2 separate regions of the Homo sapiens genome follow, and region 2 is linked to region 1. The links come from fine-mapping of genetic effects on gene expression. A gene starts in region 1. The other region holds a variant in brackets. All regions are shown on one strand. Distances are between the middles of the regions. Region 1 holds the start of TTYH3 (tweety family member 3). Region 2 overlaps IQCE (IQ motif containing E).

What was found. PIP is the estimated chance that this variant, and not a neighbour inherited with it, causes the effect.
Region 2: its variant is fine-mapped to the expression of TTYH3 in whole blood (TOPMed, PIP 0.99).

The regions. Positions count from the first base shown.
Region 1 is chr7:2,622,218-2,638,781 of GRCh38, reverse strand. It overlaps TTYH3 (tweety family member 3), which reads right to left and starts at 6,796. Exons shown (of 14, transcript NM_025250.3): 1 at 6,504-6,796. The coding sequence starts at 6,626. RefSeq lists enhancers at 338-1,009, 3,710-4,442, 5,286-5,395, 5,175-5,907, 6,640-7,371 and 2 more and silencers at 6,446-6,855, 16,293-16,564.
Region 2 is chr7:2,604,261-2,618,174 of GRCh38, reverse strand. It overlaps IQCE (IQ motif containing E), which reads right to left. Exons shown (of 22, transcript NM_152558.5): 19 at 13,184-13,294; 20 at 12,178-12,299; 21 at 10,948-11,051; 22 at 3,447-8,131. The coding sequence ends at 8,013. It overlaps LOC107986760 (a long non-coding RNA gene), which reads left to right. Exons shown (of 3, transcript XR_001745069.2): 2 at 374-525; 3 at 3,199-3,592. Among named protein-coding and RNA genes, the nearest start is that of TTYH3, 21 kb to the left of the region's middle. RefSeq lists enhancers at 6,955-7,528, 7,529-8,102. The variant G/C (reference allele first, on the strand shown) is at 9,846.

The DNA of each region.
Region 1 (16,564 bases):
GCCCCTACCCATAGCACACTCGGCCCAGGCTCCCAGCGACACTGGCCCAAAATTAAAAACAGATTTTCCACCAGGCTGGGTTTGGGTTTCACGCATTCCATGACGGTGAGCTCCTGGCCGTGCCTGGAGGACGTGCAGCCAGCAGCGGCCACGTGGGAGCCGGGGTCGGGGCCAACTTTGTGTCCCTGTCCCCAACTCCTGAGGTCCGAGGTCCAGGTCGCCAGGCTGCACATGGCCCCACACCCCCCGGGGCTCCCTCCGGGCTGGCCCTCACCCTCCAGGAATGGCCTGGAAGGAGGCCAGAGAGGCAGCCCTGGGGCTGAGGCTCAGAGCCGCTCCTGCCCGTCTCCCCACAGGCCGGGCCCCTTTCCTGCACCCTGTAGCCGGGGGACCCCAGCTCTCCCGCTGCCCACGCCCGCCCTCCCCCTCGTGCAAGGAACAGACACCAAAGAGCTGCAGCAAGCGTGTCTATTTTGGTCCCCGTGCTCCGACACATCTCCCAGCGTGACACCCGGAAAATCCCCTGCTCTTCCCACTTGTCTGCAGCCCTCTGCACCAGCTGCCTGGGGACCGGGCCCCAGGCCTCAGACCCAGCCAGGAGCCGCCAGACTGGAGCCCCATCTCCGGGATCAGCTCCCTACCAGGGAGAGGCAGCCCAGAGGGCACGGCCGAACCCCAGACACAGGGCTGCAGGGCTCAGAGCTGGGTGCACCCCAGAACTTCAGGAGTGCTCTTCCACGATGGCCAGGAACCCAGCCAGCGTGCACAGGCCCGAGGGGGGCAGAACGGCTAGGGGCACTGTGGCTGGTACCCTCCTCAGAGGCCGAAGGCACTGGCACTCTGTGGGTGGCCCGGCTTCCTCCCACACCCTCGGCCAACATGGGCCTGACCCAGCCACAGTGGGTGCTGCCCCACAGGACTCAGGTCTCAGCCAGCCTCCCAAGACTGTGAGAAGCCCCCTCGGATGGTGTGAGGCCCAGCACAGGGCCTGGGTGGGCTCCCTGCAGAACATAGCGGCAGGCCCGGGTACAGGAGGCCCTCCTGTGACCCTCCCACACCCACCATCCACCCGCTGTCACATGCCAATTCCCCGGTGGCCACGTCAGGCACTTCCCATGTCCTTGACCCCAGGCCCCTGGCTGCAGATTCGGTTCCTCTTCTCTAGCCGAGGCCTCAGCAGAACTGACGGTGGGGCAGGTGGGGGAAGTGTAGATGCCCCTGAGCCCCCTAAACCTGCACCCCTGGGTTCACGAACTGTGCTGACGCTGTATCCACTGGGACGGACGTGGCTGGGCTGCAGCTGGAACCCGTGCCCAGTCTTCCGGCCCCCCATGCTGGCCGGCCCCCGTTTCTGCTTATGTCGGGGACACAGTGTCCACCTCCCAGGGCCACTGGGTGGCTCTCCAAGAAAAGTGCTTTAGAAACGAGCAGCACAAGCATCCGGGGAGAGCCGCCGTGGCCTGGGGAACCAAGCTGCAGGGCTCCCCGCTCCCCCAGAGCCTGACCAAGAGCCCCCGGCCGGGGGTCAGAGCGGCTGACACTGCAAATCCCTTAGACGGGGTTGGCTGGCAGGGCCTGCCCAGGGGTCAGGGGAGGAAGAAGGGTCACCATGGAGATGCCCAGAAGAGGGGTCCTAGAGCTGGCCCTCGAGTCTCAGGCGAGTGGGGGGCAGGCGGGGGTCCCGCACACACAGACTGGAGTGGCCCCTGGTGATGCTAGAACTGGGGAGATCAGGGAGCCAGCACCCTGAGCAAGAATAACCACCCCAACATCCACACCTACAAAAAGCCGTGAAGACCTCGGGGACTTCTAGAGGGTCCCAGGCTGCTGCACTCCAAGGAAGGGGCTTGAGAACCCCAGAGTCTCCTGGGGACAGAGGTGGCCAGAGTACCCTCAGAACCACAAAAACCAGGAGCCCAGATATAGGAACCCTTGATGCGGGCAGCGGCCGGGCCAAGGGTGGCCTGACACCCACCCCAAGCAGGTCCAGGGCCCACAGCTTCACACCCCCTGGCCAAAAGGCAAGCTCAGCCAATCGGAGTCTCCCCAGGAATGCAGACACCGGCCAAGATGGAAATCCTGAGTGGACTGGGACCAGCCATCAGGGGCTTCCTGCCCACCTCCACCCCCCAATGCAGGGTCCCATTCGCTGTACACCCCCAGCCTAGTTCATCAGCTCCTGTCCACTCAGGGATTGCTCCTGAAGCTTCCACCCAGCTCCCCGGGGGCCTCCGTGTCTGGCCCGCTTCTGTCATCTGTAGGTACAGAATCCTGCCTGGCACCGTGGGACGCTGGACAAGCATCTGGAACACGGTCCAAAGTACGAGACATGTCAAAAGCAATAGGATTCCAGTTCTCAGGGACACCCACCCTACAGCTCTATGCTCTTGGACTGAACCCAGCTGGAGGGACGCTTCTGTCTCACGCTCTTCCCTTTTCCCCAAATGTTCCATGAACGTGTACTGCTTTCGTAAATGACAAGACAGGCGACAGGCGACCAACACTGCCGTTTTAACCAGAACTCATTTCCTTCTGATGAGTGGGGAGGATGATAACAGGCCAGCCCTGCCCCAGGGAACTGCCCCCCAGGCTGCAACTGGGCACAAGGCTGACCTCACCTTGTGGCGGCACAGACAGAGGTGTTGTGCTCTTAGGAGCCAGGCTCCCAACTCTGCTAGGAGAACACTGGCCCTACTCCCAGAGCTCAGATCCCCTCTGAGTGGCCATCCAGCCTGGGCTGGCACAGTGCCTGGAACAGAGGGCTCACCAGTTCCTGAGGCAGCACATTCCCCGTGCGCAGTCAGACCAGAGCGACCCTCTGGCACGTGGGGCTGAGGCCTCTCCCCGAGGCTCAAGCTTCTCTCTGCCTCAGGGCCTTTGCACCTGCCGTTCCCCCAGCCCAGAAGCTCTTCCCCAAGGTCTCTGTATGGTGACCTCAGTCTTATCATTAAGGTCTCAACAGAAACATCTGGGCATTCCAGGCTCTAGTGGAAAACACGTCCCCCATGCTAGGCAAACTGAGGCAGGGCCCACTATCTGCCCTGGAAGGCAGATGTCCCAGTGAAACCATCACCTGCCAGGGCCAGCACGGCCCATGGAGGAGTCAGAAATGAGCAGGCAAATCCTAACCCTCTGATTGTCGGCAGCCGGGCTTGCAACCTCCATGGCAAGCCAGTTAACACCACCTCCTGCAGGAAGCCTTCCCTGACCACTGGGCTCCCACCGCCTGGGTTCGCAACCCACCACAGTCCGTAGCTGTTGTCCTGCATCTGGCCTGCCCTGAGCTGGAGGAGACAGCCCGAGAGAGAGGCTGAGGTCAGTGGGCATGAACTTGATCCCTGCCTGAGGACACGGGGTCACAAAGGGCTGGTGGGAGCTGAGCAGGCAGGCCTCCCCCGAATAAAGCCCAGGACAGTGTCTGGACCACCCAAGGTCACGCAGGAAGAAGCGACAGAGCGAGGGTGCAGGCCTGCGATGCTCTAGCTGAAGAGAAGGCTCTGCTGCCCTCAAGGGCCCCTGCCCGGGGCAGGACAGCCAGACCCACTTGACATTCAGGACTCACTATGCAGCACTGACTGGCCCCGGGCCACGCCAGAGGCCTCAGGCCCAGCCCTGCCAGCTCAGCTGCAGGGCCACCAGGGAGTCTCAGGCCTCCTGTGGGCCTCCAAATCCCTCCTGTGAACAACAGCCCCCCATTCACTCAGATGCTCAGGCAGCACGGGAGCCCCTCTCGACAGTCACTGGCTGGGGAGCTGCACAGAGCCGACCCCAGATGCCCCTCCACCCCCTGCCCTCTCACAGCTCCCTCAGCCCCCATCAGCTTCTAATCCCACGGTCACACCCCCAGCGGCAAGGCAGCCGTGGGGGAATCCGGGGAGCCTGCGACTCCAGGCTGACCCCGGCTCCTCGGGGGGCCGGACGAGGGACCTACAGCAGGGCTGCGGCCCCACCACTTACTCACTATGTGATTCGGAGCCTCAGTTTGCTAATCTGTACAATGGACAACTCTCCCCACCTCCTGGGGCTGTGGGAAAAGTGACTAGTGACAGGCAGTCCCACGCAGGGCCTTGAAACAGGACCTGGCCCTGGTCCCTCCGGGGGTTTCACCAGGGTTCCCAACAGCAGACCACGGGGGCCAGAAATAGCAAAGGACAAAGGCCAGTCCCCCGTGCCACACCCCCAACTCCCAACCCCAGGCCCCACCTCCCCTCCATCCCCCCGCCCCCATAACCACGGGGCAGATGCCCACTCCCCAGCAGGGCACAGCCCAGGTTGGGGCAGCACAGAGACAGCTAAGAGGGAGCCCTCAGTCAGGATGGGTGAGGGGTCCACCCCCCACTACAGCCAGCAACTCCTCACCAGGGGAGGCAGGAAGGGGCGCCTGCCACAGCCCAGGCCCACCCACTGCCCATTCTCCCAGGAAGGGGGCTCCTGGCCCTTGCCTCCCAGGGGTGACCCTACACAGGAGGCACGGCCAGCCCAGATTCAGGATGAGGCAATGAAGGCTCAGAGACACCAAGCAGTTGCCGAAAAGCACCAGTATTGGAAGGGCAGGGGCAGGACGCACGCCAGGACCAGCTCACGCCACAGCCCCTCGCCAAGAGCCGGGAGTGGAGGCGGCGGGGGATGGAGGCAGGCCGGTTTCCACATCGTGAATTATTCAGTGGCTAATTCTGCTCTGTGGAGATGAGGCAGGAGAGAGAGTGAGTCAGAGCCCTCCCACAGCAGAGCAGAGCGCAGGGCAGGGGAGGAAAGGGGGCAGAAGCCAGGGCCTCCCAGGGCCATAGCACCCTGCTGGAGGCCAGGCAGGTCAGGCTGAGCAGAGGGGCCTGGCTACTGCCCGGAGGCTCTTGTGGGCTGCAGACATCATCGCCCCTCACTCCCTCTCACTGCCTGTCTCGAATGTGGGAATGCAGGCACCCCGGAGGGCTGGAAGGAAGTCCAACTGTGGCTGGCAGCTCGGGCAGGTGGCAGCCCAAGGGGCAGCAGGAAACAGCCGCCCCCCACGCCCCAGGGCTGCCCCGGAGCTTAAGAACTGACAAATGGGCCAAACCCTCAGGGCAGAGAACTTTCCAAAGTGAAGCACACCCTCCTTGCAGCTTCAACAGAGTCCTCCAGGGACAAGTGGCAAAGCCATCAGCATGGAATAAGTTCCAGAAGTTCCTGAATGTGCATTGCCCCCACACTGAACGGTCCCCCAGGGCTGGGCTTCTAGAACGCAGGCGTGAGATTTTATACCAATCCTTCCGCCTCCCTCCTCCCTGCTGTGTCTGGGCGTGCCTGGGCCGATCCCTCGCCCCCTTCCTCATCTGTTAGGAAACGTCATCGGCTCGGCTGGGGGGCCTGGGTGCAAGTGAGCGCGAGGCTGGGAGCAGTGGGCTCCCAGGTGCCCTGCTCCTCCACTTCCGCCTCCCTCCTCTGGATGCGGGAGGCCACAGACAACGCAGTTCTGAAGAGTCCAGGTGCTAGGCTGCCCGCGGAATACCGGATTCCCAAGCCATTTTGATAAGCAAAGCCATCCCCACCCCACCATGGGGCTCTGCCATGATCCGTCCAGAGAGAAACTCCGGGTGACCAGGGACCCTGGTCACGGGGCTTCTGGAATCCGGATCTCTAGGCAGGAAGGAAATGCCCACAGCTTGGTCCCCTGCCCCGCACTCAAATGACAGTAGCTTGGCGATGGGGGTGGTGCTGGGGCCTGGCATGATGCCAGGCTAAGGGCTCCCCTGGGAGAGGGCTGCAAAGGGCCCCCAGCCGCCCCCCAGGTCTGCCTGGGCTCAGCCGCTTCCAGCCTCCCTGCCTGAGGCCCACGGTGCTTCCTGGCCGCCGGGCCTCCCTCCCCCGGGGGCTACAGGCAGCCTGGTCTCCCACGGCCACACACGGCACCCTGTGTACATCCCACAGCCTGACCGCCAAGCAGGGGGTCATTACCGGCCACAGAGGGCTGGCGGCGGCCCAGGCCATTCACCCACTGGAAGCCTGGCAGTGGGATTCCCCAGTCGGGGGTGAGTGGGCGAGGAGTCTCTGCCTGCCTGCACCCAATGTGCTCAGGCACCCGCTCTGATCTCAGAGCCTGGGGGTCATCTGGGGAGGGGTCTCTGCTGGGACACAGCACCAGGCCGCCAACAGTGATGGTGGAGAGGCCCTCCACTGGCCAAGGGGGCTCACGGAGTGGGGAGAGGCAGCTCCATGAAACCCAGGGGCCTTAGTGACACCAGAAGGGAAGGCCAGAATCGGGAGGGGGGCCGTGGACCCTCACTGGGGGTTGGAGGGTATTTAGACCTTTGAGGAGGAGGCCATGACCCTGGAAGAAAGGGTCCTAGGACTCAGAAGGGACCCTCGAGAAGGAAGGAGGCCGGTACCTGCGAGGAGGAGGTGGCCGTGACCCTGGAGGGGGGGATGAGGGGTCTTTAGGCCCTCGGGGATGGGGGCCGTGACCCTGGGAGAGGAGGGGGCCGTGACCTGGGGTCCCTGACCCCGCGACCCCGAGAGGCCCATGTCACCTGCTGGTAGTCGGTGTCCTCGGGCCGGAACTGGCTGCTAGTGGCCTCCCAGCTCAGGTCGAAGTGGGGCAGCCGGTGCAGGAGGCTCACCCACCAGGGCGCCGCGTAGCTGACCCCGGCCATGGCGGGGCCCGGCCGCCTCCGGATGCGCGCGGCCTGCGCGGGGCTCCCTTGCTGGCCCGGGGCGCGGGCTTCAGGGACCCGTCGACCCCCGCCTGGCCGCCCGCATCATCCGCGCGCTCCTGGGCCCGGCCCGGCCCGGCTCGGCCCGGCTCGGCTGCGCTCGGCTCCGCTCGGCCGCCCGCGCCCGCCGCCTCTTTGTTCGCCGCCGCCGCCGCCGCCCCCTCCGCACCCCCGCCCGTCCGCCCGCCGGCCCCGCCCCCGAGCCTCCATTGGCCCGCCTCCCGCCAGCCCAGCCCCCGCGCGCCCCGCCCTCTGTCCCGCCTCTTACCCACCATTGGTCTATCCCCCGCCGATCCCGCCCCACAGCGTGCCCCGCCCACTCGCTCCTGAACCTCTATTGGTCCTTTTACCTGATGGTTTTGCCCCTCCACTCGCATCCCCGCCCATTACCCAATGGCCCCGCCCCTCCACGTGTCCCCGCCCTTCGGCCCCGCCTCTGTACCGTCATTAGTCCGCCGGCAGAAGCTCCGCCTACTTCCTCGCCTTCTTGGAGGGACGCCTGGCCCCTAAGGCGCTGGAAGACCGACCCTCAGCGCTGTAAGACCCGGGCCAGCCAGTCTTTCCACGTGGCCGTGGGGGCTGGAACCCTGGCTGCATATGCAGCTGCGCTTCATTCCATGAATTCGCTCTTCGTTTGGATCTTTGCATGTTTCTTATTTGACTCGAGGGTCCGGCCTGGTGGGCTGGGCTGGTCTTGGCCTCCCCATTGCACACACAACAGCCCACAGCCCGCAGCGCCCAGCAAGGCACCGAGTGGCCTATCTGTACAATGGACATGATCTGGATTCAGGGCCTGGCTGGGGCACCTAGAGCTGTGTGATCTGGGGCAAGTTACTTAACCACTCTGTGCATCGGTGTCCTTGTCTGTAAAAGGGGATGATAAAGCTACGAGTGTTGGCAGGGCGTGGTGGTGGTTCATGCCTGTAATCCCAGCACTTTGGGAGGCCGAGGCAGGCGGATCACCTGAGGTCAGGAGTTCGAGACCAGCCTGGCCAAAATGGTGAAACCCCGTCTCTACTAAAAATACAAAAATTAGCCAGGCGTGGTGGCGGGCGCCTGTAATCCCAGTTACTCTGGAAGCTGAGGGAGGAGAATTGCTTGGACCTGCGAGATGGAGGTTGCGGTGAGTGGAGATTGCGCCACTGCACTCCAACCTGGGCAACAGAGTGAGACTCCATCTCAAAAATAAAAAAAATTTTTTTTAAAAAGGTACGAGTGTTAAGTGGATCCGCAGGTAGATTCAGTCCCCATCCGGCCTTCCCTCTGGGGAAGGTTGAGTCTTTTGTCAAGACCTAAGATGAAGACGGTGCCCTGTTCTGGTGTCCTGGGGCCTAAAAATTCAGGCACCTGCCAGAGAGGGCCCATCATGGGCTTTGGAGCCACACAGCCAAATTTCCTAACAGGGCCTCCCCATGCCTGTGCCTCCTCCTTTGCTAAAGGGGAGATGGGAGCTGCCAGAGCCAGGAGGATGGACATAGTGCGTGCTTGGGCCCAGGTGCACGCCTCCCTCCGCACTCTAGGGCAGTGGGTGCATCCTGGCTCTGCTTCATCACCTGGGGCCTTATTCCTGGACCTCCTGTGTACTGAGAAACAGGTTTCCACACCCGGGCTCCACCATCTGCTGTGCCCGACTTGGCCAGCTCTGTGGGCAGGCAGGCCGTTCCTGGCAGGAAGAGCTCTTTGCAGGCAGGGACGGTTCCGGGCAGTGTCTTCCCAGGAGGCCTGGACTTTGGCTCATTGACTGCCCTGACTCGCCTGTTTTCCTGTGATAGGGCACCGGGCAAGAGGGACTAGCTGAGCTGCGGTTTCCACCCGCTGGATAACTTGGAGACACCACCCAGCTGGGAAATAACAGCCAGGCAGAAGGGGGGAGGTCGCATTCTCCATCCCTAAAGGCCGAAGAGCCAGAAATTTGGGGTGGGGTGGGGATACTGGCTCAGGTTCCTCTCTCTCCAATGCCAAGGATGGTGGGAGCTCCAGGCAGAATGAAGCCCCCCCCAACCCCCTAAGACCAAGGCTACCTACTTGGAGTGGGCTGGTACCTGGCCAGGTGAGTCCTCTTCTTTGGCGCCAGCTGATTGCTCACTGTGAACAGGTGGCTTAGGCAGGACGCCCACTCCTAGCCTGACACTGCTCCAGCATCCAGCCTGTGACCTCATCTCCACAGCCAGGGGATCGCCTGCACGGCCCGTGCCCTGGGCTGACTCTGACCTCAGAGTTCTGTGTCGCATAACTCCAGGGATGAACAGGGCAGTCCCTGGCCAGCTGCAGAAATTGTCCTCATGGCCTGAGATCGTTTCTGGTTCCTGCTGTTAGCAGCAGCTCCCATGGCCACAAACAGACCTCCTGCTTCCCCCCACCACAACTCCAGTGCCCTCCACACCAGCCTGGCAGCCCTGCCAGGGTACACACATGCAGGCAGGGGGTACAGGAGTTCCTTCCCCTGTTTCCAGAAGCCTGGCAAAATTGTACCTTTCCTTTTGATAAAGCCAGAAAGTCTGATGCAGACATGATGTGAGATGATAACTTAGGGTCAGGCACAGTGGCTCACGCCTGTAATCCCCACACTTTGGGAGACCGAGGCAGGGGAGATCGCCTGAGGTCAGGAGTTCGAGACCAGCCTGGGCAAATGGTGAAACCCCGTCTCTACAAAAAAATACAAAAATTAGCCAGGCATGGTGGCACATGCCTGTAATCCCAGCTACTCGGGAGGCTGAGGCAGGAGAATCGCTTGAACCCGGGAGGTGGAGGGTGCAGTGAGCCGAGATTGCGCCATTGCACTCCAGCCTGGGTGACAGAGCGAACTCCATCTCAAAAAAAAAAAAAAAAAGAAAGAAAGAAATGATAACTCAGGTGTAGTGGATTGAATTATGTTCCCCAAAAAGATATGTTCAAGTCCTAACTCCTGGCACCTGTGAACGTCACCTTCTTTGAAGAAAGGGGCCGGGAGCAGTGGCTCATACCTGAAATCCGAGCACTTTGGGAGGCCAAGGCAGGAGGACCGCTTGAGGCCATGAGTTTGAGACCAGCCTGGACAACATAGTGAGACCCTTCTCTACAAAAAAATTTAATCAGCTGGGTGTGGTGGCTTGTGCCACCACAGTAGTTCCAGCTACTTGGGAGGCTAAGGCGGGAGGATCACTTGATCCTAGGAGATCTAGGCTGCAGTGAGCTATGATCGTGCCACCGCACTCCAGCCTGGGTGACAGGCTCATGCCTGTAATCCCAACACTTTAGGAGGCTGAGGCGGGCGGATCACCTGAGGTTGGGAGTTCCAGACCACTTTGACCAACATGGAGAAACCCTGTCTCTACTAAGATTACAAAATTAGCTGGGCGTGGTGCCATGCACCTGTAATCCTAGCTACTCAGGAGGCTGAGGCAGGAGAACAGCTTAAACCCGGGGGGACGGAGGTTGCAGTGAGCCGAGATCACGCCATTGCACCCCAGCCTGGGCAACAAGAGTGAAACTCCATTTCAAAAAAATAATAAATAAATGAGAGTCTTTGCAAATGTAATCCAGTGAAGATGAGGTCATACTGGGTTAAAGTGTTCTCTAATGCAAAGATGGTGTCCTTATAAGAAAAGATAAATTTGGACACAGACTCAGAGATACAGAGACACAGAGGGAAGCACCCGTGTGAACACGGAGGCAGAATCTCAGGGATGCCGCCACAGCCCTGAACGCCGAGGGGCCACCAGAAGCTGGCAGAGAAGCCTGGGGCGCTCCCTCCCTCAGAGCGCCCCGCCTCAATCTCAGCCTTCTGGCCTCCAGAACCGTGAGACAATGCATGTCTGTGTTTGAAGCCACTCAGTTTGTGGAGCTTTGTCACGGCAAATCCAGAAACAAACACACCGGCTTTCTCAGAGCTTCCTGGTGGCCAGCGCCCTGTGCCTCTGATGGTATGGGATGAAAAGGTACTGATGACTGAGTAATATTTGCAGTGTGTTTGGGCCATGAAATCTATTCCTAAGGGGCCTGTGGAGGAAGAATTTGGTAAAAGGGATCCAGGGTGGAGAGAATAAGGGGCCCACAGTGAAGGTTCTGGAAGAACACAGCCAGAGTCCCTACCTCACCCCCGTGCAATGCTGCTTGGGATCCGGGTGTTGAAGAGAAACTCCGTGGGTCCCTCCCTCCAGCTGCCAGGAAGGGTAAAGGAGAGAAGGCCAGAGAGAGGATCTAGTGTGGGCCAGGGCATGGAGGAAGCTCCGCCCACCATCCCACCTGCTTTGACCCGACAGTCACTGCCCAGAGCTGTGTGGTTCTTCCCATCTGTCCTGCAACCACTGTGGCTGGAGGCTGGACTTTAGTCCCACTCTACAGACGGAGCAACTGAGGCCCGGTCCCCGCCATTGCATGGGAGGCCTTGAGAATCACAAGCTGGTCAGGGAACCAGGGTTCAGCCTAGTTCCAGGGGCCCTTCCTCCCTCCCCACTTCTTCCCTCCCTCCCTCCTTCTGTCCTCCCTCCCTTCTCTCCTTCCCTCCTGCCTTCCCTCCCTTTCTCTCCTTTCTCCCTCCCCCCACCTTCCTTTCCTCTCTCCTTCCTCCTCCCTCCCTCGTTTCCTCCCTCCCTCTCTCCTTCCCTCCCTTCCACCTTCCTTCCCTCCATCTTTTCCTCCCTCCCTCCATCTTTTCCTCCCTCCCTCCTTCCTTCTTTCCCCTCTTTCCCTCCCTCCCTCCTTTCCTCCCTCCTTCCCTCCCTCCTTCCCTCTTTCCCTTTTTTCCTGCCTCCCTTCCTCTCTTTCCCTCCTTCCCTCCTTTCTCCCTCTCTCCCTCCCTCCTCTTCCTCACTCCCTCCTTTCCTCCATCCCTCCCTCCATCTTTCCCTCCTTCCTTTCTCCCTCCCTCTTTCCCTCTCTCCCTCCTATCTCCCTTTCTTCCTCCCTCTCTCCTTCCCTTCCTTCTTTCAAGTGAAATAGGGATTGTGAGCAAAAACCAGGCCTGGGAAAGTCTGTGAGAGACTGCTGAGGCAGTCTGGCACGGAGGGAGGGGAGCAGCCAGGCCAGGAGCTCCCAGGGTCTTTCCCCTACGCCAGGAAGGCGGCAGGGTTGAGGCTCCCGAATGGTTGTCCAAAGGCCTGCAGGCACCGGAGAGAGGCCAGGCCTGAGCTGAGCATGGCCAGGCCTGGACCGCTCCTCCAGATGCTGGGGCGGAAGCCAGAACAATGGAATTCCCTGTGTTTGGGCCCCATCCAAAGAGGTTCACATTTTCTGTGGAGACGGACCTCACTGGCCGGGAAGAGAAGGCTGCGGGGCTGGGCTTCCTGGCGCCTGCTAAGATGAGGCTGGGTGATGCTGTGGTCGCACAGCCAGCCGGTGCCTGGCGGACCACAGACACCTGGCTGATGGATCTCGGCCGCAGGGGAGCCACAGAAGCACTGCTTTCAATCTGGGTCTGAGGCAACTGGCCCGCAGCTCTGGAGGCTGGGAGAGGTGCCAGCCAGCATGGTCCCCAAGAGGACCACGGAGCAAGCCACGCACACCTGGCCAGAGTGAGGATGTGAGCACCTCTCATTATCTGGGCTCACCTGGCCAGCAGCCTCGCCTTGTCCAGAAAGCCACTGGGAGCCAGGAGACCAGTGGGGATGGCCTCTGAGCTGCCAAGAATTCTGTCCCAAGTCCCATCACTTAAGTCGAGTGTCTCATTCAGAACCTCCCTACTTGCCACATAAGACTATCAAGACCGGGTCTCAGAGTCCCAAGCCCAGTGTAGATTGAAAATAGTGCCCTGAGGCCAGGCATGGCGACTCATGCCTATAATCCCAGCACTTTGGGAGGCCGAGGACGGCAGATCACCTGAGGTCGGGAGTTCGAGACCAGCCTGACCAACATGGAGAAACCCCATCTCTACTAAAAATACGTAATTAGCCAGGCGTGGTGGCTTATGCCTGTAATCCTAGCTAGTCGGGAGGCTGAGGCAGGAGAATTGCTTGAACCTGGGAGGCGGAGACTGCAGTGATCACAGGCAATGAGCCGAGATCACGCCATTGCACTCTAGCCTGGGCGACAAGAGCGAAACTCCGTCTCAAAAATAAAAAATAAAAAAAAAGAAAAAGAAAAGAAAAGAAAATAGTGCCCTGAGGTCAGGCATGGCAGCTCACGCCTGTAATCCCATCGCGTTGGGAGGCCCAGGTGGGAGGATCACTTGAGCCAGGAGTTCCAGACCAGCCTGGGCAACACAGGGAGACCCCATTTCTACAAAACATTTCAAAAATAGAGGCCGGGCGCGGTGGCTCACGCCTGTAATCCCAGCACTTTGGGGGGCCGAGGCGGGTGGATCACGAGGTCAGGAGATCGATTCCATCCTGGCTAACATGGTGAAAGCCCGTCTCTACTAAAAATACAAAAAATTAGCCGGGCGTGTTGGCGGGTGCCTGTAGTCCCAGCTACTCGGGAGGCTGAGGCAGGAGAATGGCGTGAACCCGGGAGGCGGAGCTTGCAGTGAGCCGAGATCACGCCACTGCACTCCAGCCTGGGCGACAGAGCAAGACGCTGTCTCAAAAAAAAAAAAAAAATTAGCCTGTCCACGCAGCCCCACCCACCAGCTAGGTTTTGTTGCAATGAGCACTGTGCTGAGAGTTGTGAGACCTGGGACTTATGTCAGGCTTGGCCCAACTGCTATGACCCCTTTGGGAACCCATGTCACCGACGGGGGAACTTAGCGTCCAGTTTCCTATTTTAGAGATGGGGAAACTGAGGCTCCGAGAAGGGAAGAGATTCATCCCACACCCATAGCCCTGACTCACTGAGGAAACAGCCATTTTTTTAAAAAAGAATGAAATCATGGCCTTTGCCGGAACATGGATGGAGCTGGAGGCCATCATCCTAAGTGAGCTCACACACCGCACGTTCTTACTCATAAGCAGGAGCTGAGCAATGAGTAAGCATGGACAGAAAGAGGGAAACAATAGATACCGGGGACTCCAAAATGGGGGAAGGGCCGAGCGCGGCGGCTCACGCCAGTAATCCCAGCACTCTGGGAGGCCGAGATGGGTGGATCACTTGAGGTCAGGAGTTCGAGACCAGCCTGGCCAACATAGCGAAACCCCATCTCTACTAAAAATACAAAAATTAGCTGGGTGTGGTGGCACATGTGTGTAATCCCAGCTACTTGAGAGGCTGAGGCAGGAGGATCGCCGGAGCCCAGGAGGTCAAGGCTGCAGTGAGCGGTGATTGCACCACTGCACTCTACAGCCTGAGCAACAGAGCAAGACCTTGTCTCAAAAACATAAAAACAAAAATGAAACGAACAAACAAACAAAAAACAAAATGGGGAAAGCTTTCTTAATGCTCTGATGCTTTCAAGGGATGTTCGTTGTCTGCCAGTAAATTCCTGCTCTGGGGGTGCCGGGAGCCGGCTGAGTCTGAGCAGGATATTCATCAAGACCCAGGACTACCGTCTCTTCCTGGCGGCCTCCAGTGCCCCAATTCCAGGAGCAGTGGGAGAGGGTATCTGGCCACTCTGTGGGCTGCAATTGGCATTGGTGACAAAGGCTGGCTGAGTCGCTGTTGGCAGGTGGACCACCGACCCCACTGCCTGAGCTTGGTGAGTAAGACGTCTTTCACCGACCTTCAGAAACAGGCCAGCAGCGGGCGTGGAGGGAGGCGCTGGGGCAGAGTGGGTGGGGAGGGGTTGCCGGATGGATTCTCACCTCCCTCTCGGGAGCCCCGCCCGCTGCTCTCACAGGACCACAGGCTGTCACAGGCTTGAGCTGCCAAGGAGACACTGCTCCCCCTCCAAGAGCAGAGACCTTTCGGCCAGGCAACTCTCTAAGCCTCAGTTTCCCCAGCTGTAACAGGAGGAGGGTCATGCTTCTCTCCCTGGGTGGGTACTGGGATTATGCTGGAAAAGGGGTGTCCAAGGCCAGGCCCCACATAACCTGCGTGCTCTGCCCCATGTCCCCTTGGGGGACCCTGTCCTCACCCCACATCCACTGTGTCTCTGTCTGGCCTGGGCAAGGGAGTGTCCTGCACCCTCTAGGTTTCAAAGCCTGGATCTGACAAACTTCACTCCCCCACGCATGGGGAAAGGCCAGCTCAGCTTCCTTGGCTGGTTTTCTGGTCAGGGTGGGCCCAGGAGCCCAGGGAACCCGGGGTCTCCCTCACTGGGCCGGGCAGGCTGCTGGGTCTGGGGATCCTCTGGAGAGCTGATCCTCCCCTTGACATGCCATTTCCAAGGCAGGGGGCCCAGGAGGGAATGCAGGCCCCCCCAGCACCCCGGAGGCTTTGTCCAGAACACAACACCCTGGAGACCCGGCTCAGCGTGGGAGGAGTGCTGTGCGTGGAGGTGGGCAACAGGCAGCCCCTCCGTGGCCTCCACCCCTCTTCCAGCCCCCAGCCTAGGACAAGCACGGAAGGTTCTAGAGGCCGCTCTAGGGGTGGCCTACTTGCCCGGAGGGGCTCATCTCATGGGAAAGGTCTGGAGGCAGGAGGTGGGGCCTTTTTTGGGTCACGTGAAGATGTCCAGGGGCCACCTGGGGAAGCCCTTCAGAGGCATCACCATCCTGCCCCTGGCAGGGCCGCCTCCTCCGGGCACACCCAGTGCCAGCCACCATTCAGGAAGGGCTCTCCAGCTCCACTCCTGCCAGTCTCAGCTCTGGAGGCTCGGAAAAGGAAGTGTCTTGCTCAAGGTCCCCCGGAGCACGGGGCAGCAAGGCCCTGCCCTTTGTCCTGAACTTCTCTGCACCGCCCCAGTTCATCTCTGTCAAGGAATCTGGCCTGCTGCCCCCCTGCCAGCCCCTCCCTGGCCTCCCAGGGCCTCAGGACCAAGTCCAGAGTCCTCCCAGGACTGGCGAAGCCTCCACATCGCTCCCGGGGGTGGGGGGCAGTGCAGGGGCGCAGGGCTCTGGAGAGGAGCAGGCAGAGGCTTCTGGAAGTGAGATGGTGATGGCAATATTATGAGGGCCAGGGCCGGGCCTGGGATAGACGCTTAGGATGTGTGTCTGGGATGAATGGTGTTTTGCTCTTCCAGAGCTCTGCCGGCTGGCATAGGCCCTCCCCGCCCACTGGCTCACAGCTACCCAGAGACAGGGCCAGCACACCCTTGGGTACAGATGGTGAACCTCAGGCTTGCCACAGGTCGCCCGCAATGGGGGGTGGGGGGTGTGTTGCGGGGGGTGGTGCTGGCTGGAACCCTGGGCTGAATTCTTTTACCTGCAGGCCCAGGACCCCCATTTTCCTTCCCAGACATCCCAGCTGGGCCTGCAGCCTGGCAGGGAGGACGTGGGATGCAGGAGGCCCTGCCGGGCTTAATCAGTTGGGCTAGAGTGGAGGCCCAGCTCTGGGGACCCAGCCCAGCCTCCGTGGACCCCAGAAAGCCCTCTCTGCTCCACAGGGTCCCTGTGAGCACAGAAAGGCTGGGGCAGGAGGAGATGGGGGCAGGAGGAGCAGGGGGAGGTGGGGGCAGGAGGAGCAGGGGGAGGTGGGGGCAGGAGGAGCAGTAGGAGTTGAGAGGAGGAGGAGGAGGAGCTGGGGCAGGAGGAGCTGGGGCAGGAGGAGCTGAGGCCGGAGGAGCTGGGACAGGAGCAGCTGGGGCAGGAGCAGCTGGGGCAGGAGCAGCTGGGGCAGGAGGAGCTGGGGCAGGAGCAGCTGGGGCAGGATTTGCTGGGGCAGGAGGAGCTGGGGCAGGAGGAGCTGGCCAGGATGTGGCTCCATTCCAGGGGGAGGGGTAGGTGGAATGTGCTCCCCCTCCCCTGCCTGGCCAGGCCTCCTTCCCCTCTGCGTCTCTTGGCCAACAGCCAGGCTGTCCCCTTCCGGGGGCCCTGGGCTCTCTCCTCCATGGGGTCAGCACGTATGTGGTTCCTCATCAGCCCATGACGTCCCCTCCCGCTCCCAGCCTCCCCTTCTCAAATGCAAATCCGATCCTGTTCCCACAGCTC
Region 2 (13,914 bases), 19 kb after region 1:
TGTGTGCATGTTGGTTTTGTGTGTGTTTTCAAGTTTGCATTGTTTCATGTGTGGGCATGTGTTTGCAGGCATATGTCTGCTCATGTGCAGGTGTTTGCATGTATGTTGCATTGTGGTGTTTTGTGTGTGCACGTGTCTTTGTGTGCGTGGACATGCAGCAGTCTGGCATGTTCAGGAGTTCAATTTTGTCTTGGAGCCCGTGGGAACTGTCTGGTGGGGTCACTTGGCCTCACTGCAGATGTGGCAGCAGAGTTGAGGGCTGCTGAGGGGGTAGCCCCTGTGGGGCCTGGTGAGAACGGGCAGGGAGACGGGGATGATCTCTAGGTTTCTGGCAGGGACAACCATGTGGCTTGTGATGTGGTTTACTGAACAGGGAGCAGGTCATGAGGGAAGATAAATTGAAGCCGAGCCAAGCTGAATTGGAGGCATCTGAGACAAGAACGTGCGGACGCCCAGTGGACGATCCAGGCAGGCTGGGGTGTTGGGGACGGAGCCGTGGATACACCCATACTCAACAGGCAGAGGGTAGGACCGGGTGCCAGAGCAGAAGAGAAATCCCGAAAGCAGGGAGGAGTGATGAGGCGGGAAGGGTGCACTCTCGGGCGAGGGTAGCAGGAGCGGTGAGCATAGTGGAGCCAGCAGCCCACAGGGTGCTGGAGGGGGAAGTGGGTGAGAGAAGGGAATGGGGCGGGGCGAGGCTGCAATGAGCGGGAACCAGCTCCCTTTGTATATTTTATGCGAGCTTCGCCCCAGCCCACCCACTCACACCCTTCCCTGCTTTCATTCCTTTGCGAGCCGGGCCTGGGAAGGGAAGGGCTGGTGGGGAGGAAGCCCCCAGACAGGGCTGCCATGAATGGCAGCCGTGGGAGCCCTGGCAGCGCTGGACTCTGTCCTTTGAATCCCAGGCTGCTCTGGGACTTAATTAACGAATAGCTCAGGGGCACCCTCTCCTCTTATTCAGAAAGGGACACAGCACCATGGTAACGTCCCCAGGTTCCTGAGGCAGGCCCCATCTAATGGGGCTGGCCCTCGGGGCTGACACTGGGCCCTGCTCCCGGGATCCAGTGGGGAGGTGCTGGCCAAAGGCCATTAGCTGGCACCCACGCAGAGACACGCCACCCTGTTCTGCAGCCCGTCATTCATATTCCAAGCCCGACAGCAGTGCTGAAAGGAGCGAGGGACTCAGAGGCTTACTTCTTTTTTTTCCTATGTCCCCCAGGGACCTTGGAGGAATCTCATATTTAAAACTGTCTTGGCAAGAGCTTGTGGTGACCCTCACTCGGTCTTTGAGGAGGCCCTCATGCACTCAGCGCACGTCTGGGAGCACCAAAAACCAGAGGGCTGGATGGGGAAGAGGAAGAGGGTTCTCCCCGTGTGCCTGTGCGCGTGCGCATGGATGTCCACGCTCACATACTTCCATGTCTATCCATACCCCGGCCCACGGTGGGTGGAGGCCTGAGGTTGGACCTTCTCTCTCCTCCTCTCGCCAGTTCTAGCTGAGAAGCCCCCACAGGCTGCCTCCTCTCTGCTCCTGGGTCTGAACCCCTAGGGGAGATCACAGCTGGCGACTGCGGGGGCAGCGAGCTTGCAGCGGGCGAGTGCCTGGTGCACCATGCTCTCCAATGCCACAGGCTCCCTCAGGCCCTACCAGCTCGTCTGCAAAGTGCAAGTCTGCAAATGAACCGCTTGCCAGGACAGCACACAGGCCATCGGAGTGTAAAGATGGGCTCGGGGCAGGCCACGGTGGCTCGCACCTGTAATTCCAACACTTTGGGAGGCCAAGGTGGGAGGATCGCTTGAGGCGAGGCATTGGACACCAGCCTGGGCAACATAGCAAGGCCCCATCTCTACCAGAAAAATATATTTTATTTATTTATTTATTTATTTATTGAGATGGAGTTTTGCTCTTCTTGCCCAGGCTGGAGTGCAATGGCTCACTGCAACCTCCACCAAAATAAAATTTTATTTATTTATTTAGACGGAGTTTTGCTCTTCTTGCCCAGGCTGGAGTGCAATGGCTCGCTGCAACCTCCACCTCCCGGGTTCAAGTGATTCTCCTGCCTCAGCCTCCTGAGTAGCTGGGATTACTGGCATGTGCCATCACGCCCGGCTACTTTTTGTATTTTTAGTAGAGACGGGGTTTCACCATGTTGGCCAGGCTGGCCTCGAACTCCTGACCTCAGGTGATTCACTGCCTCAGCCTCCTAAAGTGCTGGGATTACGGGCACGAACCACTGTGCCCCACCCCTCAAATTTTGTATATTAGCCAGGTGCGTACCTGTAGTTTCAGCCACTTGGGAGGCTGAGGTGGGAGGATCACTTGGGCCTAGTAGTTCGACTAGCCTGGGCAACTTAGCAAGTCCTCATCTCTACAGAATTTTTATTTTTATTTTTTTGAGACAGAGTCTCGCTCTGTCGCCCAGGCTGGAGTGTAATGGCGCCATCTCGGCTCACTACAACCTCCACCTCCCAGGTTCAAGCAATTCTGCCTCAGCCTCCCGAGTAGCTGGGACTACAGACGCACGCCACCATGCCCGGCTAATTTTTGTATTTTTAGTAGAGATGGGGTGTCACCATATTGGCCAGGCTGGTCTTGAACTCCTGACCTCGTGATCCGCCTGCCTTGGCCTCCCAAAGTGCTGGGATTACAGGCGTGACAGAAATTTTTTAAAAAGTGGTTGGGCACAGTGGTGCACACCTATAGTCCCAGCTATCTGGGAGGCTGAGGCAAGAGGATTGCTTAAGCCCAAGAGTTTGAGGCTGCAGTGAGCTATGACTGCACCACTGCACTCCGGCCAGGGCAAGACAGCAAGACCCTATCTCAATTTAAAAATATACATATATTTTCACACACACACACACACACACACACACACACATATAAGATCGATAGAGAGAAAATAGGCTTGGGCAAATGCCAGAGCCAACCACAGTAACTGTGGAGGCTTCGGACAAACTCCACTCAGGATTTAGGGCCCCAGGGCAGGCAGCCACAAGCACACAAAGCCACAGATGCTCCTTGTTCTATGCAACAAAATATTGGAAAACAAAACCCAGATATCAGCTCCTTTTGGTCGTTTCCATCTGTGTTTGATTCCTCAGTAAATTATTCTTTCCCTGCTCCTGAAACAAAAATGAAATCAAATATGGAGAAATAACTCCCTCACGCACGCACATTTTTGTGTCCTCATATCTAAGGAATAGATATTCGACGGGGGACCGGGGTGTCAACAGATGTATCCGAGTTCATGCGTGGCAGGGAGCTGGCGGCGGGACCCGTCCCTCCAGCTGGCTCTCCAACCCCAAGCCTGCATTACGACCACGGCAAAATGCCAGAAGCCCAGAGAAGCGGGGTTTCTGAAGCGGATCGTTTGTTCAGCCCGAGTGCGTGGGGCAGGAACACACCTGGAGGTCATTAAAGAGAAGTCTTCACGGGGCACTCAAGGCACACTGCAAAACAACTTTTTATTTAAAAGGCCAATAATGAGAATAATGAGTTGCACAAGAATGAAAACCTTATCCCTTCCAAAAGATCGGCCTATACATTATGTATAAAGTTAGAATAATTCTAAATACAAAATGCCAAAGACCAGCGGGTCCACTCCTTCCTCTCCTAAGCCATCTTGACAGTTTCACATTTCAGCTTCCAGACGTCATTTCTGTTGCTTTTAAGGGTGCTTACCCAGCCGTGGTCTGTACCAGACAGGGTAGTTGGCACAGCGTAGGCACTGCCAGCAGGCCCTTGGGAGCTTGGCGAGGTGGGAGCCTTGAGAAATAGCTGGCTCGGACCCATGGCGGGGTTTGTGTGTCAACTCCCTGGTCCTCAGAGAATCCGAGCCACGGGAGAGCAAACGCTGCTTCCAAAACCAAAGGAGGAATTTTGCAATCGTTTAGACGGGTTATAATAGAATCTCATTCAGATCTTGAAGGTTATCGGTGCTTTCTGCAGGTTTTTATTCCTCAAAAATGCAGCCAAGCTTTGCTGTGCTTATCTTGGTGGATCTGAGCTAGGTTGGGCTATCTTTTCCTAATTCAATTGCCTTTTTTTTGCAAGGAAGGGGGTTTCTGGTCCATCGGAGGGATCAAGGGCATGGTCCTCACGTCTCGTCAGGAGACAAAAATAGACATTCAGCAGACAGACCACAGCCAGCGCATGCGACCAGCGTCGTTTGGCTATTTTAGTCTCTTCTTAATACACAGACAAACGAGCAAAGAAAAAGCTACTTTGTCCAACACCGGGCCCTGGGTTGGAGTTTAGCCCTGCTTGGCTCTGCCCGCTAGTCTCAGTCAGGTCACTCACCCCAGGCCTGCGGGAACGGTGGTCTTGGTGGTCTTCTCTGGCCCTTCCACCTCTTCTGCCTTGTGGGGACCACCCAAGCCCTCTCCCGACTTGCCCAGAGGCTGCACGCCTCTCTGGCATCACAGTCCGCACGGAGCCTGGCTGTAAGGCTCCACTGAAATCCCCCCGGCGCTGGCTTCGTGCCCCAGGCACACCCACCTCACTTCTGCCTCTTTTCTGCTGGTTTCTGGCCTGTTTGGTCCCAGCCCCTCCCTGCACTCTCTCCGCAGCTGTCTGGTGGGTGATGTGAACCAAGGGACACCCAGGGTCATGGCACTGCCTGGATTCAGTTTGGTAATCGTCGGCAGTCTGTCCCTGGCTTCTGAGCCTGGGGCCTCCTCCTCTTTCTCCCCATCCTGGATGAGCAGGACACGCTGGGGAGACAGCGTCCTACAAAGGCCTCCTAAGAGCTGTGCCCTGTGCCAGGAAAGCCTCCTGTATCTCCAAGGATGTCCCTGGAGCCCTCCAGCTGGTGCCTCTGCTGAGGTCTGTGAGCAGCGGGAATAGGCCTCTAGGGGAGGAGTTGGGGACAGGCCTCTAGGGGAGAGCACACCTCCGGGTACTGCACCTGTGGCTCACCAGCCACCTGCACGGGGCCAGCTTCAGCCTCAGCAGTGTCAGCTCAACAGACGTGACTGCTGTCAACACAGTGGGGCCAGGCCCTGGAGACTGACATCTCCTGTGGCTGCTTGTTTAAAGGGCATGGGATAGAGAAAGAGTGTGTTATTTTAAAGCTGGACTACCTAACAGCCTCTGATAGCAGATACAGCTTTGCTGCTGTTCTTGAAGTTCAAGGTGATGTGGAGGTGTTGCAGTGACAATCAGTACACCGTGAACAACACCTGCCACCAACGTCGACCCTGAAGTGGTAGATGGGGCCTGCTTTGGCACTTGACGCTGGGGCAGGAGTCCCTTTCTTGGGGACTCACTCTCTACTTCGTCTCCCCCGGGAGTTGTCTACTTTCCTAGGCCCTGCCAGCAGCCCCCACAGCTCCGCCCAGCCCACTCCACCAGCTTGCTGCTCCCATGGCTCAGCCCCACTCACAGCTCACCCCTCCCATGGCTAGGCCCCATCCACAGCTCACCCCTCCCATGACTAGGCCCCGCCCACAGCTCACCTCTCCCGTGACTAGGCCCCGCCCACAGCTCACCTTTCCCATGGCTAGGCCCTGTCCACAGCTCACCCCACCCATAGCTAGCCCCATTCACAGCTCACCTCTCCCATGGCTAGGCCCCACCCACAGCTCGCCCCGCCCACAGCTCACCCCTCCCATGACTAGGCCCCGCCCACAGCTCACCCCTCCCATGGCTCCATGGGCTTCTCTTCCCCTCCTGCCTAAGTCCCCGCAGGGCCAGAACCCCTGGCCCCCAGGCCCTGGGGCCGTGGGCAAGGAGGCCTCTCCGCTTGGTACTGTCTCCATGGAACAAAACCACACTGCAGCGTTCCAGGACCACAGAACAGCCAGGCAGGCTGTACCCAGCAAAGGGGACTGGTGACCAGCACTGGACACTGGGCATCAGCTGAAGACACTGGCTTGAGAATGCATTGCCATTTACCCAGCGAGCTTCAAGATGGATGCTGGCTTTTAAAAGAGCAGCCCAGCTGCACCAGAGGACATGGCGGTTTATGTATGGAACATTGGCCTCCAAGCCTGAGGCAGGAAAGCCCTCTCCATGCCTGTAACCCAAAGCTCTAGGCCACTGGTTCCCAAGAGTGAGCACGTCCCGCAGAAACAGCTTGGTTTAACAAGTGGGAGCAGCTGCCACAAGAGAACGGAGGGTCTCCCCCAGCGAATGTGCAGGTGTCTCACTTTCTCAGGGCTTTCGAGGTGGACTGGCTCCTAGGACCTGAAGCTTTGAGCTGGCAAGCAGGGATGGCTTGGGACAGCGCCCCAGGGAGTGGACCCGGGCGGGTGGGGTGAAGGCAGGGGTCTAAAGAGGGCCTGTGTCAGTTACACAGTCCATCAAGTTACCAGCCAGTTCAGTGGAAAAAAAAATGGACTTGGCAACCCACAGACCAAATAAGGAAAACACGTACACAAGCCAGGCCCCCCGCTGACTCGCTTCCACCCACTGCAGAAACAGAAGCTAAGTGGAGACAGGGGCCAGGCTTCGAACCGCAGGGTGGGGCGGGTCCTGCACTTTGGGTGGCCCCATCCCTGAGTGACTGGGAGAGAACAGGCTGGGCTGGGGACACCTGTGTCCTCCTCCCATAGAGCAGGTGGACATGCAGAGCCTCCTCTCTCCCTTTCACAAGCCACTGTGTTGGGGCCATCGGCCTTCTGACCGCCACAGAGAATGACCCAGGCTCAGCTTAGGTGACTCAGAAGGCCGCCATGCTGCAGAAAAGGCGCCCAGGGGTTAAGCCTGTCCCCGTGGACGGAAGCCTTGGGAGAAGCTGTCAGCTGTGTAAAAAGGGGCTTTCTAACCATTGGGTCTCTCCTGAGACAGCGGCCAGCCCCGGCAGGAGTCCCCACAGGGGTGCTGTGGAAATGCAGACACCAGGCCTGGGCTGTGCAGGGGTCTAGATGCCCCTGAAGGCCCGCCCAGGTCTAAGGCTCTTCCTCTTGACGCCCCAGCAAGGGCTAATCTCACACACAAGCAAGAGATGGGCACTGGACACTGTGCGCTTCCCCCAGGAACTCCCTCCTAGGCCTCTGCAGCTGCTGGCTCCACAGGCTCCGCACGCCCGGCCCAGCCCAGCCCAGCCCAGCCCAGCCCAGCCATGGAGCTTGGGAGTGCAGAGGCCGCACACATGGGGTGACGGGGACTGTCCCAGACACCAGATGCAACACGCCCCACCACGAGCCTATGCTGTCCCTTGGAACGGCGAGCCTGCCTCCTCACCCTCCTCTCCTCCTCTTCCCCGGGTGGCCCCACACAGGCTAAGGCTCCCGCCACCAGCTTGGGAACAGACATCACCCTGCTGTTCTCAGAAGCAAGTGTGATGCTGCTTTTGTAATTGGGAATTTTAAAAAATCTTGGTCTCCACAGTGACAGAATCCAACCAAATTCCTTCCTGGGAAGGGCAGCTCTGGAGGGCAGTGCTCCAGGGGATAGCAAGGGTGACGGGAAAGGACGGTGTGAGCGGGTGGGGCATGGAGTAAGATCATTTGGGGACCTGGGTGTCTTTAGCTCCTCACTGGCTTGGGACAGGCCGTGTTTTGCTGTGGGGATGGGGGAAGCCGGTCTCACACCTTCCTAAGGCACAGCGGGGTGTGTCTGCCTGGCCTGCTGGGCTGAGATCGAGCAAATCCTGGTTGTTGAGGGTGTCACCAGGAAGAGGGGGCATGGTGTCGGCGCTGGTTGCGGATAGCAGCTCCTCACGGTCAAGGTCGTGGGCAGGCGGCAAGGTGCTGTCAGAGAACGTGTCACTACAGGGCTCCCTGGCATCTGCGAGTTCACGGCAGATGTGTCTGTTGGCACTGAAAATCCACCATCCGAGCTGCAGCTGGAGATGAGGGGGATGCGAGCCGCTGGCCCTCCCCAGAGAATAAAGTAAAGGCATTTGGGTCTCCTTCCACAAACAAAAGCACAAAGAGACACGACGCAGATGCTGAGGTGTTAAGTAGGTATCATCGTTCTTCTCCTAACACGATAAATTATCTTTCCAGTCGTGGTTCCTATGTCCTCGGCAGCGCTGCCATCACGGCGTGGAGACAGTGACGGGGACCTAAACTGGAAAGTTCTTCGTGGGCAGAGACGGTGCAATGACAATATCGTCGGAATCATCGGAGTTGACGTCATCCCCAGGTAGAGGTGCCAAGGCCTGTGGCCCTGAGGGAGAGGGGTCTGCAGAAATGAACCACAGGGAGAGGGGTCAGCCACGCTGACCTCAGGGGCTGCCACCACGGACACCCTTACACTGTCTGCTCTTCCCCGGCAGGCAAGACGGCAGCCACCCCGAGAAGCAGTAAGCCATGGGGCACACAGGCCCTCAGGAGCAACTCACACACCTGCCAGAAAGCCTCACTCTCCGCCCTCAGGACCAACTCACACACCTGCCAGAAAGCCTCACTCTCCAGCCTCAGGACCAACTTACACACCTGCCAGAAAGCCTCACTCTCCAGCCTCAGGACCAACTTACACACCTGCCAGAAAGCCTCACTCTCCAGCCTCAGGACCAACTTACACACCTGCTAGAAAGCCTCACTCTCCAGCCTCAGGACCAACTTACACACCTGCCAGAAAGCCTCACTCTCCTCACCTTCAAACTCAGCTCTGAGTATTCTCACCATTTCCCCCAGTCAAAACACCTGCAAAAGCAGACATTTGCCAGCATGGAGGAACCTCGAGTCCACACTGGAGTCATTCCCTGAAAGCCATTCCCACAGCAGCAGTCCAGGAGTCTGGGGCCTGGGTGGGTGGCTACCCGTGTGTAGGAGCGTTTCTGCTGGGTGCAGTGGCTCATGCCTGTAACCCCAGGACTCTGGAGGCCGAGGTGGGAGGGTGGCTTGAACCCAGGAGTTCCAGACCAGCCTGGGCAACACAGCTAGACTGCACTTCAAAAAAAAAAAAAAAAAAGCCAACTTCCCTGTTAACTCGCTGGCCACTGGTATAGAGGGCAGGAGGGGGCAAGGCACGGATCGCTGTGAGCTTGCAAGCTGCTCGGCCATTCCCCCTTGGATGCTCCTTCCTAAGCATCTAGAGCGTTCCAAACTTTTAATCCATTCTAGAATGGGACGCCACCTACAGACGGGATGGAGGTGGGTACCAGAGCTGAAGAAGGGACGGGTCCTACCACAGCAGCAGCCCCAGAGCTCCTTGCCGGGGAGCCTGAGTGTCGCTGCCTTGAAAGACGAAAGTAAAAAAGTAATGAACTGCTCATGTGAGATTTTAAAAAGGGAAGGAAATGGCAATTCGGCCATGCCGCAGATACTGTAACTGTGTCAGCTTTTTTTTCCTGCAACTTTCAAGAAAATTCATATTAAAGGGGAACCTTATGAAATTAAAAACAGCTTTCATGGTTATCTTCAAAAACAACCAATCAGCTCAAACAAAAGCTTGATTTATACTTTTCACAGAGACATTTCCTTAGGTCAATAAAGCTGAATCCCTGGGTCACGGGGATGAACTTGCGTCTTTAAAATCACTTGCGTTGAGCAAGAGAAAAGGGCAGCATCAACGCACGCTTTAGCCCTGATCAAAGCCTCTAAAGGTCACCAAAGGCAGGGTCTGGCGAAGCCGGTAGAATCGGCTCCCGGAGAACAACTGAAAGCCTTTTGCAGAGCCCACGAGTCACAGGCCGGCCCGACCGCTTTGCGTGTCTGTACATTCTCCCCGAAACCCCAGGCTGCTCATCTTTGTGTTGAGCTTTACAAATGGAAGTTTTGGAGAGAATATCAAAGTTCAAAGTTTTCTAGCTCTGACGAAACTAGGTTAAAAAATGAAAATAAAATGTGATTTCATACGTGGTATTTCCAGGTCAAACGTGGTATACGGTTCTTAGCTCGTGCAGGAGACTCTCTAAAACACAGCCCCTAGCGGGACCCCCTGGGGAGGGAAG[G/C]CTCTCGGGCTCCAGGTCTGATGCGGGCCTCAAAACGGCCTCTTCCCAACTCCGTGACTCCGCGTCAGCACAGGAGGGATCTCCCAGGAAAGCGAGGCCTCCGCCCGCCACGGGCCCCCACACTTACTGGAGTGGTACTGGGGGGCTGCCGGCTCCCTGGGCCCGTCCTGAAGGGACATTCAAATTAAGGCATGTGGGTCCTGGGCAGGCCTCACCCTTCCTTCACCCCCTGGCCTTCCTCACCCTCACCCTTTGGGCTCAGAAGAGCCTCTTCCTTTGTGGTTTTCCTTGCTGTTCTCTCTCCTCCTTCCCTGACTCCACCCTGGAGACCTAAGGACTCAGCACAGCAAAGCCCTTCGCCTGACACTTCCCACGTGAAACAGCCCCGCACGCCACACTCCCCTCCTCAACAGGGTCTTAAGGCTGCCCTTCTCCATCTCCCGACAGTCCCGAGTCTCAACAGCGTGCCTCCGCACTCATCTTCCCTTTACAGGAGGTGTCAATGGGGGGTTTCTAATTGCAGGATAAGACACGGGATCTCAAGTCCACGCAGAGCAGCATAGATTTGGGGTGGAGAGTGGCTTTCCAGCTGTCTAGCCCGTTCTCTACTTTAAACATGAAGGGACTGACGGCCAGAGAAAGGCAGGGCCTGCTGGGGCATCCCCGTCAGCTCCGGGCAGAGCAGGGATGAGGCCTCACACCAGGGTGTGGCATCCTGCAGTGCCAGCGGCTTCTTCACTGACTGTTTTTGGACTTTAACAAAGTAGAAAAGGAAACAATAACACGGTTTTACTCAACAAACAAACAGGAGAAATGCTGGCCTGAAGGAGGAAGCCACCTCGGTCCTGTTGGAGCTGAGAGCAAAAAATAAAGACAGCAAGGACCTCGGCAATTCCAGGCACAAAGGACAAGCTGGGCCAAGGCGGGGCCCTGTTGTGGGCCTTCCTGGCATAAGGCGACGCTTAGTTCAGAGGCAGCTCCAGATGGGACACTCCTCCCTTCCGTCCCGACACAGCCCGGGCTTCCTGGAGGTGGCCACTCTTTGGCTGAGACCTCAGCAGACCAGCTGCCCTGGTGCCAGAATCCAAATGAATGAAATTACCAGGAAGAGCTGCGAGGAAGGGTGGGGAGGAGGCGTCCCCGTGTGTGGCTGAAGCCGATCTCCTCCTGGTAGAAGCTGCGGTGGTGGTTCTTTTACCGGTAGCACTGGAAAAAAACAGAAAACGCCAGCTGATTCTGCTTTTAGAGAGTACAAACCTCTCTGAGGTTTACAGCAGCCTCAGTAATTTGCTTGGAGGCAAGTATTCCAATGAAAGCAAACACAGAGCCAGTCCCGAGCCCCACGACCAGCGCTGTACCCAATATGCACCCAGGGTCCAGAAACGTCCGGCGGTGAAGAGCCTCAGACACGTCCCCGTCCATCTCCTCGGGGACCATGCTGAGGTCAGGCCGGCATGGTTTTATAAGCTGGCCTCAGACGGCTCCGTTCCCTGTCTCCTGTCTGGGTCAGCCCAGCTGCCATTCCCCGGGGACATGCTTGCAGGCTGCATGGCCCTCCACCTCCTGGCTGGGGCTCGCCGCCCAGGGATGGGTCCCTGACTCCTGAGCCCACAGTGTGTCCCAGGTCACATGGGGTCAGGACCATGAGATGCAGATGCGGCCTTGGAGGGAGAAACTGCCCACTCGGAAGTGCTGGGTGGCCGCGCGGCTCCACCACAGAGGCTGAGAACCAGAGCAGTCTGTGATAAGAGGGGAACAAACCCCATGCGGGGTGAAGCAGACGGGGGTGACGGAGCGGGGCCGTCTCTTCCCCTTACTGTAAACTCCCCCCGGCCAGGCTCACTTCAAGGGGTTTTGATTTCTGCAACCGAGAGTCCTAGCAAACCCACCAAGAGGCCTGTGGGAACGCTGCCATCTAGACCCTGCACGCGTCGCCTGTCATATGCCGTGTCCAACACGGAGGTCACAACACAGTTTTCTTTCACAGGGATGACCTATCAGCACAGCCAAAAGCCAGGCCACAGACTGATGGTGACCTGAGCTACACGGTGTGTGAAGCTCCTCTTCTCATCTCCTCCCGGTAGGGAAGAAGCGACTCTGGAAAGGCCTCCCCCGAGGATCACACCTTCCAGCCCACTCCACGTCCGTGGTGCAGCAGGGAGTCCTCAGGATGTGAAGCCTTTACTCTGGCTCCAAACCGAGGTCCCGCTGGCAGGCGGCAGGCGCTGCTCCAGTTTCCGCCACATGCCCTGCACCCAGTGCTCCGGGCCCAGTGCGGTGGGCAGCCTCTCGTGCCATGTCTGTGTCCCACGTCCCCGTGACCCTGACTCACCTGTGCCTGGCCCGGGCCAGGTGTGCCCGCAGAGCGGACTGGATGATGACGATGGCCTCCTCCTGCACAGGGCTGCCCGTGGCCTGGGCGATGGGGCTCGGAACGCGGGGCACAGGAGAGCTCTGGGGTGCAAGGACAGCAGGGAAGACGACTGTTTGGCAGCCCCCTGCTGGCTCCCAGCACTCAACCCCCAGGGCACCCTGGGCGTCAGGGAGACAGGAAGAGCTCAGTTTCCTTTTCAGATGGCCCTGCCTCCCGGGAATTGCTGGTCAGTGAACAGCCTCCTGGTGGCAGGTTCTGAATTTTTAAACTGTAGGGATTCTTATTTATCTATTTATTTATTTATTTATTTATTTATTTACTTATTTATTTATTTTTGAGATGGAGTCTCGCTCTGTTGCCCAGGCTGGAGTGCAGTGGCGTGATCTCGACTCACTGTAAGCTCCGCCTTCCGGGTTCACCCCATTCTCCTGCCTCAGCCTCCTGAGTAGCTGGGACTGCGGGCGCCCGCCACCACGCCCGGCTAATTTTTTGTGTTTTTAGTAGAGACAGAGTTTCACCATGTTAGCCAGGATGGTCTCGATCTCCTGACCTTGTGATCCACCTGCCTCGGCCTCCAAAAGTGCTGGGATTACAGGTGTGAGCCACCGCGCCCGGCCTACTATAGGGATTCTTAAACAAAAACCTGGTCCTCAATACAGAGGAGGGGCCGCAATGGCCTGCATCTGTCTTTAGTAGTTTTTAGCTACATCTTCATGGAGCTACTTGACTCTCCGGCAGCTTAACGCAATCTGGCCCTAACGCCACATCCATCCGGGGCCTGTGCAGAGGGGCCTGCGCAGAGAAGCCTGCATGGCCTGCGTGGCCAGGGATGGAGCGCAGGGGACGCCTGCTGGGCGGGCGGGGATGTGGAGGCTGAGGGGTGCCCTACGCTTTCTCGATGGATGGAGTGCGAGACGAGCAGCTCTGCAGATGGCCACTGGGACGTCCAGCACCCCGACATTACCTGGTCTGGGAGGCCTGGCACGCTGGGTGGCTCTGAGCCATGTGCTTTGCTTGCTAAGAGCTTTGTCCGCGTGAGATGTCCCCTGAAAGCTGCCTGAAGCACCACAGCCGCCTGTCAGGGAAGGAAGCAGGGAGAGAAAAGTGGGTGTGAGTGCCCGGGGCAACGGCGGGCGAGAGGGAGGCGCCGAGGAGAGAGCTGCCACGGCAGCAGGGAACGTGACTCCCTTCACTGCTGTGCAGCCACGTTCTCTCAAAGAGCCGTCCGTGCTCCCACTCACCCCAGTCTGGGAGAAACTCACTGGCGCCCCAGGGAGCTGACAGGGCATGGCACCTGTCAGCACAGTGGGGACTCTGGGAATGGCAAGGTGCCCGCTGCTCACTGCAGTCCCTTTCAGCGGCTAATAGGAGCTGGTATTTCACACATGGTTAGGTTTTCATGTTGGAGCGTTTTTTCAGGTTGGAATAGTTTATTGGTTTCATCTACTTTCCATAGATGTCTTCTAAATCAAGCAAGGGGCCACAAGACCTCTGAAGTGATCTTAAGAGAATTATTTATCCTGAAATGATTTTCTTAGGCTATGTGGCTGGGTGCAGTGGTTCATGCCTGTAATCCCAGCACTTTGGGAGGCTGAGGCAGGGTGATCACTTGAGGCCAGGAAATTCAGATCAGCCCGGGCAACACAGCAAGACCTCGTCTCTACAGAAAATTAGCTGGGCACGGCACACACCTGT